Regions from separate parts of the Homo sapiens genome. Here region 2 is linked to region 1. Evidence: fine-mapped expression QTL. A gene starts in region 1. The other region holds a variant in brackets. All regions are shown on one strand. Distances are between the middles of the regions. Region 1 holds the start of ZFPM1 (zinc finger protein, FOG family member 1). Region 2 has its middle 14 kb from the start of ZC3H18-DT.

Evidence for each region.
Region 2: its variant is fine-mapped to the expression of ZFPM1 in whole blood (TOPMed, PIP above 0.99).

Annotation. Positions count from the first base shown.
Region 1 is chr16:88,448,515-88,458,657 of GRCh38, reverse strand. ZFPM1 (zinc finger protein, FOG family member 1) reads right to left here and starts at 5,378. Exons shown (of 10, transcript NM_153813.3): 1 at 4,980-5,378. The coding sequence starts at 5,019. RefSeq lists enhancers at 2,174-2,303, 2,334-2,383 and silencers at 2,634-2,693, 2,724-3,433, 4,374-4,443, 4,664-4,793, 5,254-5,343 and 1 more.
Region 2 is chr16:88,542,860-88,553,002 of GRCh38, reverse strand. No RefSeq gene overlaps it. Among named protein-coding and RNA genes, the nearest start is that of ZC3H18-DT, 14 kb to the left of the region's middle. The variant T/A (reference allele first, on the strand shown) is at 4,803.

The sequences.
Region 1 (10,143 bases):
GGGGTTGGTGATACCAATCGGCCAGGCAACAGCTGCCTCCAGGAGGAGGCTGTCGATGGCAGATAGGCCAGCGGGAGTATTATTCACAAGCCCGTCAAGCCCAGGAACGTCTGGTTGGCATAGAAACAGGAGATAAGGGGCACAATTAATGGCATCACATTCCCTCCTCCTTTCTTCTCCAACTGACCCATTTAAATCCCCAGTGGTGCTGGATGCCACACTGGGTTCCTGGTGACCTCCAGGGAGGGGCTGGCGGGGCTGACGGCAGTCCCAGGCCCAAGGAAGGCCCGGATGAGCCTCCCAGGGGACCCCCTCCCCCTTGCAGTCATGTCTTAGGAAGGAGGCCATCTGGGGAAAGACCTCAGAGGGCCTCTGGTCCCAAAGGCCCATTTCACAGATGTGGAGACTGAGGCTGAGAGAGGCTCAGGGTGGCAGGGCAGACAGAAGCCGGAGGATGGAGAGAAGGCAGCGCGGTGCTCACGGACACACCCTTAAGGAGCGCAGGCCCGGCCGCCTGGGTTCCAACTCTAGCTCCATCACTTGCTTGGGCGAGAAACTTCTCTGTGCTTCAGTTTCCCCAGATGTAAAATAGTGATCAGAAGAGGACCTGCTTTAAGTTAATACACAGCCTGGCACAGAGAGGGCTCTTAAGCATTGGCTGTTATGAATATTATTCTTACCATCAAATGATCATGAGCTGTCTGCCTTCCCTAAGGCCCAGGAAAGGGGGTAAACCACAATCGGCCCAGAGCTGGGTGACGGCGTGGACTCCGGGGTCCGCCAGACCCTGCTGGAGTCCAGGTTTAGGGGTGGGGGGCCTTGAGAGTACCTCCCGATCTCTAATTCCCTCTGCTAAATGTGGCTTGAGGGCAGGTGCGGTGCCTCGTGTCTGGAACCCCAGTGCTTTGGGAGGCTGAGCTGGGAGTATAGCTTGTGCCCAGGAGTTCAAGACCAGCCTGGGCAACGTAGTGAGACTCCATGTCTATTTTGTAAAAAAATTTTAACTAAGGAAAAAAAAAAGAGAGAGAAAGAGAGAAAAACGTGGCTGGGATCAGGACTCTGAGATGACAATGATGGCTTCGCAGCCTAAGCATCAAGCAGGCTGCAGGCACCGTTCCCCTCAGGATGGTGACTGGGGACGAGGCAACTGGGCCAAGGACCAGGTAAGCTGAGAGCAGGACCTGCAGCCCCTGGATGGCAGACACTATCATATCCATGTTTCCAACAGGGGGAAACTGAGAGCTGTGGAAAGCACAGTAACTTGTCCCCTGTGGTTCAGCACCAGGGTCAGCCAGGCTGCCAAAGCCCCTTCTTTCCTGGATGCTCTGCCACCACTCTGGGTCATGAGCATGGTAAGGTGGCCTCTGACAGCCTCAACACCCGGGTGCCTCCCACGCATGGAAGGCCAGTGTGGATGGCTCTGTGCTGACATCCCACTCATGTTCATAACACATCACAGAAACCACCCCATCTCCCTCTGGGCCCAACCCAGCCCTCTCTGGAACTGGAAATGGCCCTTGCCAGATGGCACTGCCAGCCCCACGGGTGGGCGTTGGGCTGCTGGGGAGAGCAGGTGGGTGACTTTGAAGCTTGGAGTGAATTAGTCATCCTGTGGTTACCAATAATTTGTTTAATCAAACTCTGAGAGTGTGTGAAAAACACCTTGTTCTGAGCTGCAGCAGCTGCCTGGGCTGGAATAGGAGGGGCTCAGGGACCCTCCCTCCCCGGCTCCTTCCGGAAGGCCCTACCCAGATGGCCTAGGGTTCTATCTGGCCTGTGGGATCCATGGGCCCTTCCACTGCAAAGTGCCTCGGTGGACCCTCAATATCTCCAGCCTGACCTGGGGACTCCCACAGCCCTGGGGACCTATTCCTGATTCCATTTTTCAGAGTGGGAGACCAAGGACCTGACCAACTCCATCACTCCCGACCTCACTCGCACCTGCTGGCACAGGCTGGCCCCCCAGCCCCAGGCGCCTCTCAGCCCTTGCTCCCCCGACAGCAGTGGAAAACTGAGGCCAGCCCTACTGTGCCAAAGGTCACCCCCTTCCAAGAAGTGTCCCTGACCACCTGACGTGCCCCCTGCTCCCCTTGGCTGCCCCCTCTGCCCCTCTCGTTTGCCACTGGGACCCAGGGCCTGTATGCAGTAGTGCTCAGCAAACAGTGCTCAGCCCAGGCAGGTCTGCAGCGCCTCCACACCAGGGTACACTGGCCTCCCCCAAAGCAGTCTGGGCCATGGAAACCACCTTGATTTTTTTTTTTTCAAGAAAACTCCAAGCAGTGTACACTTGGTTCTTGCTAGGAACTACCAGCAACACCAGCATGATTCAAGGGGAAAACACCCTCTCTCCCTCTGGAGGTGACAAACCCACCTCTAGCGGTCTCGCACCATCTACGAGGACTCGGGGCGGGGTGTCCTCCCCCTTCCCCCTCCTGGCCGGGGCAAAGCCAGTTTTCTTTCATTTTGACGGACTGTACCACCGGCCACAGGGGAGGATCAACTTCTTGGCAATTAAGTGTGTTTGGGGAGAAAACTCCCCCAGACAGACCAGCGCAGGGACGCCGGCTCCCCGGCCCCAACCCGGGCCGTTCCAAGCCCCCACTCGCCCCAGTCGCGGCGCCCCCGCGCTGTTCTCCAACCCGGCCGGGCCTGGTGGCCAAAGATAAGGCCTCTTATCGCTCTTGGCGATCGCCATCGGGCCGACCGGCCAGGCTCTTATCGGAGCTCACATCGACTCGGGCGGGAGGAAAACCCAGCGGGCTGGGGGCGCCGGGGGTCCCGAGCTGCCCCGGCCCCGCGCTCCCCGTCGGCAGCCCGGCCTATCGCCTCCGCCATCTGGCCGGCCAAGGCCGCGCTCCCGCCTCGCCCTGCCCCCGCTCCCACGTTTGAAGTTAATAAATGGAAGCGCCTATCTCAGCCACCATCGGTTGCGCGCCTTATCAGCGCGGCACATCTATCTCCGCACGGAACAAAAGGCGCACAGAGGCGCGGGCAGCTGCGCCAGGGCTTTGATGGGGGCGCGGGTGGGGGGTGGGCGGCCCGAAGCGCTCGGCCCCCTCCGCTCTGCACTCGCGGCCCGGCCGCAGGTGAGGCCAGGGCAGCGGGCAGGCACAGGCGCTGGCAAGAGGGCGGGCGGGCGGGCGCCGCCGCTTGGTGACAATCAGCCTTCGCATCTTAACGTGCTGAGATCTGCCATGGGGAGGAGGCGCCCCGGGCCGCGAGCGACAGGGAGGGTCCGCGGCCCTGCCTTCCTCGTCCGGGCCCTTTCTCTGCCCCGGTCCCGGGCCGCAACGAGGATGGGCCGCGGTGGCTCACCGTGCACCCGCCGCGGTCCCAGTTCCCAAAGTGCGCGCGCTCTGCCCGCCCCGCTGGGCTGGGCTACGGGCTCTCGCTGGCGCTGGCGGCCTTATCAGCGCTGGAGATCGGTTTCCAACCTGCGATCTCCCTGTCCGAGCTATCTGCATTTCTCATCACAGTGAAACACCACACACACACACACACACACACACACACACACACACACACCCCAGAACCGAACATAGGCGCTCAGGGAAGGAAGGAAAAAGAAACCAGAGCACAAGCGCGGATCGGGACCTGTGGGTGGCTTTTAATACTTGAGTTGACACGATAGAAGGCGACTTTCGGAAAACAGGTCCCGTTTGCGCTGAGGGAGTTGGGTTACGGGAACCGGTTCATGCCTGTGACCCCCGCCTCGGGAGACCTCCTGAGTAGGGAAGCTCCCACAGGCCCCGCACAAGGGGTCCTGGTGGCAGTGGTCGTGTGGACAAAGGAGGTAGTGCCCGGGCGCCTACGGCTGGGCAGCGGGCGGGTTTCCGTCGTGGCCTCCTGGCAGGGCTCAGACGACCTGCCCGTCAGGCTCCGGGGAGGCGCCCCGGGGAGGAAGACCTGCGTCTGGGCCCTAACTGTGAGGCGCAAAGTTATTATTGGCATAGGGTGGGGAGGGTAGCTTCCTGTGCTCTTGCTCCCTCCTGGCACAGCCCAGAGGCCCAGGCCAGACAGTGGCCCCGACAGCTTAGTTCTCATCGCGGGGGCACTGGCAATGTGGCGGCGGGGCAGCAGCCTCTGACCGGGCAGGGAGCCGGACCAGCGAGAAACTTAGTGGCGTGCAGGGGCGACCCCGGCCCGGGGCTGCGTCCTGGGAGGCCCTTCTCTGACTCAGAGCAGCCCATTGGGATGCCAGGGGGTGCCCGCGGGCATCCGAGGGCACCATTTGTTGCCCATGCCGCCTTGGCTGGGACACTTGCAGGGTCCAGGAGGTGTCACCAGGCTGGCGGGGCCTGGGTTCAGGACTTCAGCGCTAGGGCACGGGGTGGGGGTGTCTGGGGGGCTGGAGCCAAGTGCCTAGGCTGCGGCAGCTGCGCGCTACCCCCTCCCCTGTCCTGCGGCTCTGCGACGGCACCGGTGGGGGTGGGCGCGGGCCGGTGCCTGCCACTTGGCCAGGCATCTCCGCGGCCCCGGGTGTCCCCTCTGCCTCCCAGGTCTCTCTCTTCGCTTCTAGATACAAAGCCTGGGAGAGTCAACCGCGCGAGATAAGATCACAATTTCAGCCCGTCCCGACAGAACGATCTTATCAGGACGGGACTTGCAGAATGTAATATTTTAAACTTTATCTGAGCCCAGATCGGGGCCGCCCTATCGCCGCACCATCTCGCAGATGCGGGGGAGGGGCAGGCCGCGAGGGGCCGAGCTGCCCGGGCCGCGCCCCCAAACACCCTCCTCCCGGCCTCCGGGCGGCCCCCTCCTGGGCTGAACCCCCCGGTGCCCAAGCCGAGACGCGGGGGCCCAGGCCGCCGGCGGAGATTAGATTACGGCGCGCTTGGCACAGCGCGGGGGGCGCGGCGCGGGGTGAAGGTCGCCGGCGCCCAGGGCAGAGCGGGGACGGGCGGGGGCGGCGCTGGCGGCTGGGCTCCGGCGGGGGTCGGGCGCGCGGAGGGGACCGCGGGCAAAGTTTGACTCACGCTTGATCTGCCGGGGGTTGCTCTGTTTCCGCCTGGACATGTCTCCGGCGCCGCGCGCCCTCCCGGCGGCCGCCTCTAGCCCCGGGCGGGCGGCGGCGGGCGGCGGGGGCGCGGCGGGGCCGCGGGGCCGCTCATGCCCCCGGCCCCCGGTCTCCGCGGCCGCCCCGGCCCGCGCCCCCAGCCCGCGCGCCCAGCCCCGGAGCCGCTGGAGCTGCCGCGGAGGCCCGAGAGGCCACGGTCCTGCGTTGCGGGCGCGCGGACTGCCCGACGGGCGGGTGCCGGCTCCTCCGCTCCCGCGCACTCGCCGCCGCCGCCGCGGCCGCTCGGCTTTTCTCAATGGAACCCGCGGGCGGCGAGCGGCGGAGCAGGCGGCCACTGCGAGGGCGCTCCTGGCGGGCTGGAGGCACGGGGCGGGGCCGGGCCTGAGCGTCGTCGGCCGCCGCACCTCCCGCCCCGCCCCCGGCGCTCCGGCCCCGCCCCGTGCCTCCTGCCGGGCCCTGCACCTCTCCGGCTCCGCCCCCAGCGCCGCGGCCACGCCCCCGCCAGCCCGGCTCTTCGTTGCTCTGGCTCCGCCCCCAGAGCCGCGACCGCGCCCCCGCCCGCCTCGCTCTTTACGGCGCTGGCTCCGACCCCAGCGCTGCGGCCCCGCCCCTGTCCGTCTGGGCCTTCAAGGCACTGTCCCCGCCCCGCTCGATGCCCCGCCCCTTCCTGGTTCGGCCCCGCCCGCGCCCCGGGGAGACCTCTAGCCTCCCCCACTCCTCTTTGGCCCGGAGGTCATGTCCCCAGGCCGCGCTGGGAGTCTGAGACCTATTCGGTTCTGTTCTGCTGCCCCGCGGCACCGCATCCTGCGCCCCGCCTCTCGGCGCCAGCTCCGCCTCCAAACCTGACCCGACCTGGTTGGGTCCTGAGACGCCGAGGCTCCGCCCCCGCACTGTAACTCCGCCCCCAGCCCTTGGTCCCTCCCTAGACCCCTGGGCTCTGCCGCACGCTCCACGTGCGCGGTGGGGGCAGTGACAACCGGCTCAGGAAGCCCGAGGCCTTGACGCCCACGTTTCTCTTGGGCCAGACTTGGGGTGTGGAGCGGATTCGGGCCAGGGAGGGGGCTTCCGTCCCAGACTGCGGTGGGGTCCGCCAACTGAGAGCAGGATCTCGGGTCTTCCCCTGTGAGCTCAGACCAGGCTGGAAATCGAGGAGGGGGCGCGGGAGCCGGCAGCCCTGGGCGTTGCCACTTGGGGCCTCTTTCCTCACCGAGCCTCTCCAGGGCGCCCCGCAGGAGACCCACGAAGGAGTTGCCCACAGCGCCCGGGCCACAGCCCCCTCTCGGAGCAGTCAGAGGTCAGCGAGGTTTGTGGGCGCGGTGCTGTCAGCTCAGGCCTGGAAATGGAGAACTGTTGCCCTCTGGGGTGTGTTCAAGAGCCCCACTTCACGGAGGCTCGGGGACTTGCTCAAGGTCACGCATTGGGGGGCTGTCCCCCACTCCCAGCTGAGTTGTATCATCTCCTTTTAATGTTCTCGGTCTACACTTGCTACCTGCTCCCCCATCCCCCGTACTCATAAGAAACGGGCGTCAGTGGGCCCAGGGGCAGACAGGAAGGACCCCTCCCACCTGATGATGAGATCATCGCACAGCAGGACTGTCACACCACCCGCCAGCCTGCTGGGAGCTCCTAAGACCCCATCTCGTGCCAACTTCTGTGACCTATTCCCTGGCTCCAAGGAAGGGGAGAAGTGGGGGCTTACCCTCAGAGCCTGGTACAGGAGAGTGGCGGGTGGGTAGGAGAGGCAGGGGTACAACACTGGATATGCGCCGTCCCTCCCCACTGCCATGGACAGACAGGAACACTGAGACCAGGAGGCCAAGAGAGCTGCCCAGGGGCATACGGGTCCTCCAGCCCTTCCTGCTCTCTGCCAGGGTCCAGTGGGCACAGCCTTCCCACAGCTGCTCTCTGGAGGGGGTGGGGCCCATGTCTGATTGGTTCACTCAACCTAGGACCTCCCCCCCACCCTCCCGCCCCCACCCAGTGCTTGTCAACTGGATGGAGCACCTACCTGTCTGGGTTTCCCACCAGGCCTCGCCTCCTTCCCCAAAGAAGTCCACTTTAGAGTATGTGGACCTGTGAGTTAGGGGAGTTCCTGGAGGAGGTGGCCATGGGCTGGCACCTGGGCTGGGTCTGAAGCTCCACGCACAGCAAGTGGCACCCAGGCTGGCGCTGCTGGAACGGGCGGAGATCTGTGTTGAGGTGGATTCCGAGGGTCAACAGGAGACAGCCATGATCATCCATGATTGATGTCTGTCTAGGCTGCAGGAGGAGACGATGGGGATCATTTTGGCTGCTGCTTTGCCTGATCTGATTTATTTCTATGAGCCCATATATAGATGAAAACATGGAGGGACATGCCCAGGGAAGCCAGCGAAGGGGGCAGGCGGCAGGTCCAGACCACAGCCTGCTGCCCTGCCTCCATCACTTGCAAGGCCCCATGCAAAATGAAAATATGAAAATGTGGAGCCCCCTTGATCAAAACCCCCAAACCCCAAAACCCCAGGGCATCAAGGGCAGGATGTTGAGCCCGGTGTGGTGCCCTTCCCAGCTCGGGCCCTGTGCCCCTGCACCGGTCACAGGTCCCCTAACCCTGCCAGGGCTGCTTTTGTAGCACATTCCTTCTACACTCTGTCCCTCTACCTGCCCGGAGGAAGGCATTATTACAGATGAGAAAACCGCAGCCAAGAGGGGAGGCTGCCTGCTGATGTCGAGTGGTAAAGCTGCAGGACCTTGCACACACCATTAAACCCTCAGGGTGGTCATGACGATAACCATACACTGAGGAAGAGACACAAGGCATGCTGTCTAGAGGATGGTCTGGGGGAGCCCAGAGCAGGAGCGGCCATCTCTGCCTGGGGAAATCAGAGAAGGCTTTCTGGAGAAGGTGACATCCAAGTGGGGCTTTCCAGGAGTCCCTGATCAGGTGGGAGAGGAACAGGGCGTGGGGTTGCTGAGGCTGTCCAGGCTGAGCCCACCTAGGACCTCCACCCCCCACCTGCTGCCCATTGTGAACCCCAGTTTCCATCTGCCCCTGCATGTTCTCGAGGTGTGTTGAGATTCACATCCAAAGTCACTGGTGGGGAAGTTGGAATTGCATTCAGGAGCTGCACTGGGTTCTCCCCTGCTGGCTCCCAGGGAGAGCAGGGCCTGGAACACATAGGAAGTGCTGTCTGGCAGTGGCCTGGAGACTGCCTCCCCTCCAAAAACAACCTCAGCCCAAAGAAGACATTTTTGGGGTTTGAGAAGTGGGGGTGTGCAGGGGTGGGCTGGGCCAGTGGACATGGAATTCCAGCCTTCTATTAGGAGTAGAGGGGTGTGATGGGGCAAATGCCTTACTATGCTTCTACTCTGCCTCAGCCCTGCCCCTGATGCTGGGTCGGTTTCAGGGGAGGTTCTCCTGTGCGTTGCCGACCCTGTACATTTGGAGGTAAGGGAGGAGGCACTCTGAGATGGCCTCCTCTCCCAGCTCCCCAGCCTCCTCTCCCCTTTCCGGGACCTGTGTCAGCATCACCAGCACAGCACTGACTTTGTGCTTCCAGGCTGTGCCAGGTCCGTGCCACCTTTGCACAACTGGCTGGGGTGGGGGCTCAAGTTACCACCATATTACAGATGCAGAAACTGAGGCTTGGAGCGGACCAGTTGCTTTTCAGGGGTCCTACGTCTTGGAAGTGCTGGAGCTGGGAGGGAGCCCAGGAACTCTCACTCCAGAGCGCATGTTCTTCACCCTGAATGGGACGTTGGGAAAACTGGGTTCGAGTCTTGGCTCTGCCACTTTCCCTCCTACCTGTGGGCTACCGGCCATGGACCTGGCTCCTCTGACGGGCCAGTGCCGAGCTGCCCCAGCGTGCAGGGCAGGCCCACCTGTCTCCTCTTCGGCAGTCTCCCGGGGAGAGCTCAGGAAGGCCACCCGGGGCTGGGCAGCAGCTGTGGATGGGTGAGGGGCTAATTGTGGCACCACCTATGTGCCAGGCCGACTGTTGAGCTGTGACTCAAGGAGCCACAGAATGTTCTAGGAACTTAAGCTGGACCTTGAAGGATGAGGATGAAGAGGATGATCAAAAAAGAGTGATGGGAGAGAGAAGGGCATTTCTGGCGGAGAGGGTGCAGGGGCAGAAGCTGGAGGCCGGGGTGGGTGGACCAGGGACCGCAGTGGCTGCAGGGCTGGTGCACCTGGAGGTCAGGCCACGTGAGGGCCTCGGAACCAGGCTGCACCCAACTCCTCTGTCTGCTTCCCACCACTCCCCACAGCTGGCCTGTCACCAGGATCTGTGACTTCACTTCCTTATGGCTCTGAGAGGCCCCTCCCACCCTGCTCCAAACCTTCATCAGCCTCATCTTGCCCACTCTCCCCCACCCTGGCTGGTCCCTGATGGAAGGGTGAAGCCAGCGGGGCCTCCTAAGAGCCATGTGTCGTAGCCTCAGGCTCTGCCCTTCCTTCATCCTGGAGCCTCCCTGTATGTGGGTCCAGCGGTCCCCCTTGGCACAAGCTATTGGGCTGCTGGGTGCACCCTTCCCTCCGTTGCCTGGCCTGGTCTGCCCACCCCTCCTGAGGGAATCCACTGAGTGCCCCAGGCAGGCTCAGGTCTCTCTGTCCCAGAGTGCAGGGCAGGCCCAGCTGTCTCCTCTTCCGCAGTCAGCGCTGCCCTCCTACAGCAGCAGCCACAGCAGACACTGCGGAGGGCCCTTCCGAGCCAGGCTGCACATTTGCATATGTCGGCACACTCTGCTCACAGCAGCTCTCTGCAGAAGGAGCTGTCAGAATTCCCATTTGCCAGATTTGTAAACAGAGGTTCAGAGAGGGGAAGTCACTCGCCTGAAGCAGCAAAGCAGGGAAGCGCAGGGCAGGACTCTCTCGGGGACGCGCATGCTCTGAAACGCACAGGGGTGGCTGAGTGAGGGGAAGGGACCCCAGGACCTCTCCCGTGGTCCCCGCCCGGGCAGGGCCTCACTTCCCCCACTGCCAGTCATCCCCAGGCCTTGGCGCCGCCGGGCAGCCGTGCCAGGGGCCCATTCTGACATTTGTCAAAGCTGGCTCTGTGAAGGGTTTAATTAACTTCCTGTTTCAATGGGGGGGATAATGAGTTTTAAATACCACATGACTCCATAAGGAGGTCAGGCGGCAG
Region 2 (10,143 bases), 94 kb before region 1:
GGGGCTCGGTTTTTGCCCCGTCACACGTGACCACCAGCCGGGAGGTGGGAGGCTTAAAACAACAGAAATTTACTCTCTCAAAGCTCTGGAGGCCACAAATCTGAAACCAAGAGGTCTCAGGGCTGCCCTCCCTGCAGGGCTCAGGGAGGCCCCTTCCTGCCTCTCCAGCTCCTGGCTGGTGGCTTTCTCGCTGTCCGTTTTCATACAGCCCCTCCTCTGTGTCTCTGTCTCCTTCTCCTTATCAGGACATAAGCCGCAGCAGCCCAGAGCTGTGACCCTTCATCTTACCTTCATTACCTCTGCAAAGACCCTGGTTCCACATCCACAGGTCCTGGGGCTAGGGACACGGCTCAACCTAAAACAGCCTCTAAATGAGGGGGTTTCAGAGGAAGATTGCCCCAGCCCCTCCGTGCCGAGAAGGATTTGGACATGGAGGAGTACGGGAAGGGCATTCCCGCCACTTGGAACAGCCCACAGCTGGAGGCATGCGTCAGGAGGAGCAGGGCCCTGTGGGCCCAGTGGGTGTGGAAGGTCATGTGTGGGGCAGTGTGTCTTCCAGAGGGCTCAGGAGTGTGGGGCTGGGAGCCACAGAGCCTGTGGCAGGCAGGCGTGACCAGGGACAAGTGTGTTGCCGGGGAAGACAGACCCGGAGGATCAGCGAGGCCAGGCTTCCCAGCGGTGGAGCCCCTGGACAAGGTTGTGTCCCTGTGGGAGGCAGAGGGCTTTTTCAGCCTTCATTTCAGGAACAATGACATGAAGCCCTGAGAAGGAGGAGCTCAGCCAGGAGCGGAAGGAGCTGGGCTTGAGCCCGGGGTTCAGTTCTACCAAACCCAGTCCAGAGCTGGCACCTGTCGGCAGCCAATGAGCACATTAAAAAATGTGATGAGGCTGGGCAATGGCTCACACCTGTAAACACAGCACTTTGGGAGGCTGAGGTGGGAGTATTGCCTGAAGCCAGTCCAAGACCAGCCTGGGCACACAGTGAGGCCCCCATCTCTGCAAAAAATATAAATAAAAAAAATCAGGCCTGGTGTGGTGGCTCATGCCTATAATCCCAGCAATTTGGGAGGCTAAGGCAGGTGGATTGCTTGAGGTTAGAAGTCCAAGACCAGCCTGACCAACATAGTGAAAACACATCTCTACTAAAACAAAAACAAAAACAAAAATTACCCACGTATGGTGGTGCACGCCTGTAATCCCAGCTACTCAGGAGGCTGAGGCAGGAGAATCGCTTGAACCCAGGAGGCGGAAGTTGCAGTTAGCCGAGATTGCACCACTGCACTCCAGCCTGGGCGACAGAGCAATTAGCCGGGTGTGGTGGTGCACACCTGTAGTCCCAAGTACTCGGGAGGCTGAGGCGGGAGGATGACTTGGGCCCAGGAATTTGAGGTGGTAGTGAGCTGAGATCACACCACTGCACTCCACCCTCACTCCAGGGTGACAGGGTGAGGCCCTGTCTCAAAAAGTAAATAAATAAGTAAATGAAAAATAAAAATGTGACAAGACCAGGTGCTCATTGATGAGTGAATGGAAAAACGAAATGGGGTCCATCTGTGCCTGGAAAATTCTTCAGCCATAAAAAGGAGTGGAACGCTGACACAGGCTACATTGGGACGAACCTTGAGACCCTTCTGCAGAGTGAAAGATGCCGGTCACGAGAGGCTACATGCGTGTGCCTCTGTGTCTCCAGAATGCACACAACAGGCAAAGCCACAGCAGGGGTAAGGACTGGGGGTGTCTGGGCTGGGGAGGGGGAGAGGCAGGCGGCTGCTAATGGGGTGGGTTTTTTTTTGTTGTTGTTTTTTGTTTTTTGAGACGGAGTCTCGCTCTGTTGCCTAAGCTGGAGTGCAGTGGCGTGATCTCAGCTCACGGCAACCTCCACCTCCTGGGTCCAAGCAATTCTCCTGCCTCAGCCTCCCAAGTAGCTGGGATTATAGGCCCACACCACCACACCCAGCTAATTTTTGTATTTTTAGTAGAGACGGGGTTTCACCCTGTTGGCCAGGCTGGTCTTGAACTCCTGACCTCAGGTGATCCACCTGCCTCGGCCTCCCAAAGTGCTGGGGTTACAGGCCTGAGCCACCTCGCCTGGCCTGAATTCGCATTTTAAAAGAGTCTTGGCCAGGCACGGTGGCTCACGCCTGTAATCCCATCTACTTGGGAGGCTGAGGCATGAGAATTACTTGAACCTGGGAGGTGGAGATTGCAATGAGCCCAGATCACACCACTGCACTCCAACCTGGGCAACAGAGACTCTTAAATAAATACATAAAGTCTCATTTGCATAATTTCATGTAATGATGAGCAGAGCCCTCTGAAGGTCATTATCCGGGCAGCCTCTCATCTGAGCTGGGCTCGGAGCCTGGACTGTCCTCTCCCGGGAGCCCCTTAGGCTCCGTGTTTTCATGGGCCAAGGTTGCTGTCAGACTGCCTGAGTCCCCAGGGCTCTGAGTCCGGCAGATGGTGTCCACGCCCATTTCCTCTTCTTTCCGCCAGCCTCACTGTAGCCTGGCCTTGCTACCTGGCCACTTCCTCCGGGCCATGCCGCTCCGGAAAGGAGCCCAAGGGCAGCCTTCTGTGTGGGGGCCACTGCGCCATCCGTGGGCCATGTGGGCTGCTCCAGAGGGCAAGGTCCCCGGCCTCCCTGGGTCAATCAGAGCTGGCTGTGCTTTGTCTGTTTGGTGGTAGAGCTGCGCCGTGCTGGGGACGGGGGTGCACACAGGAGGAGGCTCCTTCGGTTGGAGCAGAGTTGGGGTTGGGGTGGGGGCCACCCTCTCCCCTGGCCTGGCGTGGAAGGAGAGAACAGGCATGATGTGTGTCTTCTGGAAGATGGCAATGGGCACGGAGCAGAAGAAGACCAAAGGCCCGCCTGCAGCTCCCGTGTTTTGGTAGGGGCATTGCGCGTGTTCAGGAAGTGTGAGGTTCCTGTCTTCTCTGACAGCAAGGGCTCGGATCAGGAGCCAGGGGTAGGAGCGCAGACCTCAGGGGGAGATAACCAACCTTCACTCCCTCTGTGTTCTCTGGGCCTGTTCCCAGGTCAGAGGGCTGTGCTGGGGAGGTACCACACAGTTGGACTCAGCTACAGCTAAGTTTTGATTGAAGGCTCCTCCCAGGCACTCACCCTCTTAACCCTCTCAAGTGAGCCCCCGCTGGGTGCCTGAGCTGCAGGAACCTGCAAAACACCTTTGTCCCTCCCAGGCTTCAGACTGACTTCAGAGTTTCTTTTCTTTTTTTCTTTTTTTTTTGAGATGGAGTTTCGCTCTGTCCCCAGGCTGGAGTGCAGTGGCGTGATCTCGGTTCACTGCAACCTCTGCCTCCCAGGTTTAAGTGATTCTTCTGCCTCAGCTTCCCGTGTAGCTGGTATTATGGGTGCGCATCACCACACCCGGCTAATTTTTGTATTTTTAGTAGAGACAGGGCTTCACCATGTTGGCCAGCATGGTCTTGATCTCTTGACCTTGTGATCCACCTGCCTCGGCCTCCCAAAGTGTTGGGATTACAGGCATGAACCACCATGCCCGGCCTCTTGTTGCTATTTAGAGGAGAACAAATGACTTACAATCTAACGCAGATCAGAAGTGACTGCCAGTGTTTCTGACTGAGACTTAGATAACGAGTCACTCTGATGTTTGCACAGCAGTTTGAAGCAACACGATGTCTCCTTTTGTGAAATTAACTCTGAAATGGCCCCACGTTTAAAGAAGTGACTTTATTCTGCTTTGATATTTCAGCTCATTTTGAAACCCAAGCTTGGTCTCCTCTCTTTGCCGTGTGAATTGTCTATGGATTCCGGCTGAAAGCGGCGGACCCTGGCTGGTGGGTGCAGGTGCAGTACAGTTAGAGCTGGAGGCAGTCCTGCCTCGTGCAGCCACTGCCGGCGCTCGGGATGTAACCACTTGGACCCTCTGTTTCGTCTTCAGTAAAACAAAGCCAGCACCAAAAGGGTTAAGATTGGAACAGACTTTCCTCAACTCTGATCCATGGACCTGTGCGTTGGTGCCAATGTCTTCATCGATGTACAGTGAAACGAGGAAAAGGAGCGCCAAGTGGAATAAATCATTCATGTGGGCCGGGCGCGGTGGCTCACGCCTGTAATCCCAGCACTTCGGGAGGCCAAGGCAGGTGGATCGCTTGAGCCCAGGAGTTTGAGAGCAGCTTGGGCAACATAGGGAGAACTCGTCTCTATTAAAAAAAATAATACTTTCGTGTAAAAGGCTTTTTGTGCAGAGATTGTGCTATCCTACTGTATTTGGTGCTAAAAGGTGCTTTTATGAGATATTGAGACTATTGAGCAATAGTTAAAAAAATTAATGTCAGTATCTGGAAAAAACATAAGGTTAGAGTCCTATGCTAACCCGGAAGTGATTGTCGACAGTTTTCTGGTTTGTGATTTTTCCAAAGTCTGGGGACCCCTGTTCGGGGTGGCGCTGCCTCACTGGTGCCTTCAGGTGAACCCTGGCTGGGGGAAGAGTCCCCGGGAGGGAGCTGGGCCCAGCTATTCAGCCCAGCCAGAGCAGAGAAGGCAGTCGGTCAACATGCAGGCCCTGCCCCGGGCTTTGGTGCCAGATAAAGGGATGTCCCAGGAGTTCCTCTGAGACCCTGGAGCCTGTGGCTGGTGCGTGTGGGAGGAAGGGAGGTGTGAGCCAGGCGCCCAGACCACAGGGCTGGTGGGTGGGGCAGGAAGAGGGCCAGTGCCCCACATGAACCTGCCAGGGCTGTGGGCCTGGAAGCCCCTTCCCCCGGGAGGGTGACAGGGTCATTGACGGTGACCACCTGGCTGGTGCTGACGTGGAGGGTGGGGA[T/A]TGGAGCCACTGGGGTGGGACCCTCTGGCCATCCACTGGGAACCCCACCTTACAGGGGAAAGGGCAGTGGCGGTCAGGCTGCTGTCAATCCCTACTGTAGTGTGTGGGTGGGGGCTCCGTGCCCTGGAGACCCCCGATCATCTTTCTGGCCACAGGATGTCCTGCCTGTTCTATGCCTCCTGGGTGTGGGGGGAACCAAGGGTCCAGGAGGGGAACTGTGCAGTCTCATGGATCAAAAGGGCCAAGGTGGGGTGAGGCCAGGGTGTCTGCAGCCCAAGCACATACCCATGAGTTTCACACTTGGATGGTTGTCACCCTCTGTTCCCTCACCTTCCCCACCCTCTGTCCCCTCACCTTCCCCACCCTCTGTCCCGTCGCCTTCCCCACCCTCTGTCCCGTCGCCTTCCCCACCCTCTGTCCCCTCGCCTTCCCCACCCTCTGTCCCCTCGCCTTCCCCACCCTCTGTCCCCTCGCCTTCCCCACCCTCTGTCCCCTCGCCTTCCCCACCCTCTGTCCCCTCGCCTTCCCCACCCTCTGTCCCCTCGCCTTCCCCACCCTCTGTCCCCTCGCCTTCCCCACCCTCTGTCCGGTCACCTTCCCCACCCTCTGTCCCCTCGCCTTCCCCACCCTCTGTCCCGTCACCTTCCCCACCCTCTGTCCAGTCACCTTCCCCACCCTCTGTCCCCGCACCTTCCCCACCCTCTGTCTCCTCACCTTCCCCACCCTCTGTCCCCGCACCTTCCCCACCCTCTGTCCCCGCACCTTCCCCACCCTCTGTCCGGTCACCTTCCCCACCCTCTGTCCCCTCGCCTTCCCCACCCTCTGTCCCCTCGCCTTCCCCACCCTCTGTCCCCTCGCCTTCCCCACCCTCTCCTCGCCTTCCCCACCCTCTGTCCCCTCGCCTTCCCCACCCTCTGTCCCCTCGCCTTCCCCACCCTCTGTCCCCTCGCCTTCCCCACCCTCTGTCCCCTCGCCTTCCCCACCCTCTGTCCCCTCGCCTTCCCCACCCTCTGTCCCCTCGCCTTCCCCACCCTCTGTCCCCTCGCCTTCCCCACCCTCTGTCCCCTCGCCTTCCCCACCCTCTGTCCCCTCGCCTTCCCCACCCTCTGTCCCCTCACCTTCTCCACCCTCTGTCCCCTCACCTTCTCCACCCTCTGTCCCCTCACCTTCCCCACCCTCTGTCCCCTCACCTTCTCCACCCTCTGTCCCCTCACCTTCCCCACCCTCTGTCCCCTCACCTTCTCCACCCTCTGTCCCCTCACCTTCTCCACCCTCTGTCCCCTCACCTTCCCCACCCTCTGTCCCCTCGCCTTCTCCACCCTCTCTTCCCTCACCTTGTCCACCCTCTGTTTTCTCACCTTAGAAATGAGCAGAAAGGTGCAGAGATGGGCGATGGGTCTGGACAGATGTTTCTCCATAGACATACAGTGGCCAGTGAGCAGGGGGATGCTGCGTGGCACTGCCGGTCACTGGAGAATGCAGATTACAGCCCCAGTGAGACTCCGCTTCTCATGCATTCAGATGCTGAAGTCAGACAGTGCTGCAGCATGTGTTGGTGGGATGTGGAGGCCTGGCATGCACTGCTGATGGGAACAGCAATCGGTGTGACTGTTGTGGAAAGTAGGGTGACAGCCACTCAAAAGCTCAACCTCGGGCCTGGGTGCGGTGGCTTATGCCTGTAATCCCAGCACTTTGAGAGGCTGAGGAAGGAAGATTGCTTAAGTAAGGAGGTGGATACCAGACTGGGCAACATAGTGAGATGCCATCTCTACAAAAAGTAAAAAAAAATAGCTGGGAATGGTGCTGCACGCCTGTGGTCCTCAGCACCTAGGAGGCTGAGGTGGGAGGACCCCTTGAGCTCAGGAGGTTGAGGCTGCAGTGCACCGTGATGGCGCCATTGTTCGCCCTCTGCCTTTGATTGGAGAGTGATGATTTCCTCGTGCTGGCTGGAGACTGGAGCATCCCATGTGCATGCTTCCTGAACTTCTATCTGACTTTACTTGTATTATTATTATTGCAAAGGTAGAAACAAAAAGAGACGCAAGATGGTCGGGCACAGGACCCCTGTCCCCAGCTCATGAGGTGCCACCGGGATCTTTTTGCAGCCCTGGCCGGCCCTCTGTGCCCTGTGTCCCACCCTACTCCAAGTCCCAGCTATCCTGAGTCAGGTGCAGCAGCCTTCAGGAGCCAGTGGGGCTCACTGAAGCGGGTCTCACTGGCTGAGGTCCAGGCGTGAGCAGGGCTGGCCCCAGCTGGGAGCTCCTGAGGAGAACCAGCTGCTTATTCTGGAAGCCTCCCCGTTCCTTGGCTCATGGCACCCCCCCCATCTTCAAAGCCCATTGAGTCCTCCCATCCCACCTCTCTGGTATTCTTCCTGACCCCTCTTCCACTGATAAGAACTTTGTGATTATGCTGTGCCCACCAGGATGATCCAGGGTAATCTCTGTATCTTGGGTCAGCTGATGAGCAACCTCAACTTCCCCTGCAGCCTTAACTCCCCTCTGCTGCATGAGGCTGCGCCTTCACAGGCTCCCCCTGGGGATGAAAACACAGGCATCTTTGGGGCCATTCTTCTGCCAGCCGCCCCTCTCCCGGCATCGTTGTCTATGTCTGCTGCCTGTATTTGAATCCAGTGTACGTGCACACCTGAGTGGCCCTGCATCTCCCGGCAGCGTCCATGGTAAGATTCCCTGTGCTGACTCACAGAGCCAGACGTGGTGGCCCAGGCCCATAATCCCAGCTACTCAGGAGGCTGAGGCTGGAGAATCGCTTGAACCTGGGAGGCGGAGGTTGCAGTGAGCCAAGATGGAGCCACTGCACTCCAGCCTGGGCGACAGAGCAAGACTCCGTCTCAAAAAAAAACCCAAAAACAAAAAAAAACAAAAAAACTAGTAGTTAGACTGTGTGTTACCATGTGCTGATGTTTATTAGTTACTGAACTTGGGATTAACTGACTTCTTTGTCAACAAGGTCTAAACCAAGCCACACACCCTCATGGTAGCCTCTTCCAAGTCTGAGGTTTGCTGAGGGAGGGTGAGTGCAGCCCTGAAGTGGGAGCAACCGAAGCACAAAGCATGATGTGAGCAGGAGCCCAGCTCCCTCCAGCCACTGCAGACATTGCATCAAAAACTGCCCCCGTGTTGGCCAGGTGCGGCGACTCATGCCTGTGATCCAAGCACTTTGGGAGGCTGAGGCAGGAGGACCAATCGAGCACAGCGGTTCACAGACCAGCCTGGGCAATATAGTGAGACCCTGTCTCTTATTTTATCTATTTATTTATTTATTTTTGAGACAGAGTCTCGCTCTGTCACCCAGGCTGGAGTCAGTGGCGCGATCTCCGCTCACCACAATCTCCGCTTCCCGGGTTCACGCCATTCTCCTGCCTCAGCCTCCCGAATAGCTGGGACTACAGGCGCCCACCACCACGCCTGGCTAATTTTTTGTATTTTTTTAGTAGAGATGGTGTTTCACCGTGTTAGCCAGGATGGTCTCAATCTCCTGACCTCTTGATCCACCCATCTTGGCCTCCCAAAGTACTGGGATTACAGGCGTGAGCCACCCCGTCCGGCCCCTGTCTCTTCATAATAAAATTTTTATAATGAAGAAATTGCCTTGGTGTGTTCCATGGTGGTGTCTGTGATTGTGGGAACCAGTTTTCTTTTCCTTGGCTATTTTCAAATTTCACTGGTCCTTTAAAAAAACACACAGTAGAACTTTAAAACAACAACAACTAAAGTCGTACATTGACACCCAACAAACACCACAGCTCCTGGTGAGGTGAGAAGTGGCTTTTGACTCACAGGGAGTCAGGGCTGCACTGAGCAGTTTGCAAATCTCAGCTCCAATGATCATGAGGTATGAACAAACTCGCCAAGGCTACCTGCCTGAAACCACAAGTGCAGCCAACAATGATGATCTTTGGTAGTGCTTTTTTTTTTCTTTTTTTTTTTTTTTTTGAGACGGAGTCTTGCTCTGGCGTCCAGGCTGGAGTGCAGTGGTGCGATCTTGGCTTCTTGGCTCATTGCAACCTCTGCCTCCCAGGTTCAAGTGACTCTCCTACCTCAGCCTCCCGAGCAGCTGGTACTACAGGCGCCAGCCACCATGCCTGACTGATTTTTGTATTTTTAGTAGAGACGGAGTTTCACGTATTGGCCAGGCTGGTCTCGAACTCCTGACCTTGTGATCTGTCTGCCTTGGCCTCCCAAAGTGCTGGGATTACAGGTGTGAGCCACCACACCCGGCCTCCCAGAGTGCTGGGATTATAGGTGTGAGCCACCGTGCCTGGCCAATCTTTGATAGTTGTACTGATTATTTTCATCATTACCATGATCGTCACTATCATCATCATTATCACACACTATTGTCACCATCACCACCATCATCAGAATGTGCGTTTTCAACTTTAGAAATGAAAAATGCCATAAAAAATATTCACCGCAGATTAAGCAACAGATAACACACTGGTAAAGAGGGAATTTATTGACCAGAAAGTAGATCAGAAGAAATGACCCATTAGGAGTGCAGAGAGATAAGGAGATAGAAAATCTGAAAGAGAAGCTAAGAAGTACAGAGTAGAGAAGAGAATCTAATATAAATCTAATCAGAGTTCCAGAAAGGAGAGCAGAGGGAATGGGGAAAGGCAACATTCAAAAACAAAATGGCTGGGGATTTTTCAAAAATGTTGAAAGGTAAGAATTCTCGGATGTAGGAATGCCAACGAGGATGCACACTTAGTGAACTGTATACAATTGCAGGCTGTTAACGGTGAACCGATCCTGAAAGAGGTGATGATAAAGAAATACAGCTGACTACTCTTCATCAACAATGAGAGTCAGAGAAAAGTGGAAGCACATCTTTTCCTTTGTTTTTTTTTTTTGAGACAGAGTTTCACTCTTGTTGCCCAGGCTGGAGTGCAATGGCACCATCTCGGCTCACTGCAACCTCTGCCTCCCGGGCTGAAGTGATTCTTCTGCCTCAGCCTCCTGAGTAGCTGGGATTACAAGCATGTGCCATCACGCCTGGCTAATTTTTTGTATTTTTGGTAGAGACAGGGGTTTATCCATGTTGGTCAGGCTGGTCTCGAACTCCCGACCTCAGGTGATCTACTCGGCTTGGCTTCCCAAGGTGCTGGGATTATAGCCGTGAGCCACCATGCCAGGCCTAGCACATCTTCAAAGAATGAGAAAAGTGAACTGTCAAGCTGGATGGAGTGTCCAGCCAACTTCTCGTTCAAGAATTATGGCACAATAAAAGCTTTTCAGAGAAAACAGTAGCATAGTTTTGCCCAGTCAGGCCCTCATTAATGAACATTTACAGGATGCTATTAAGGAAGAAAGAACGC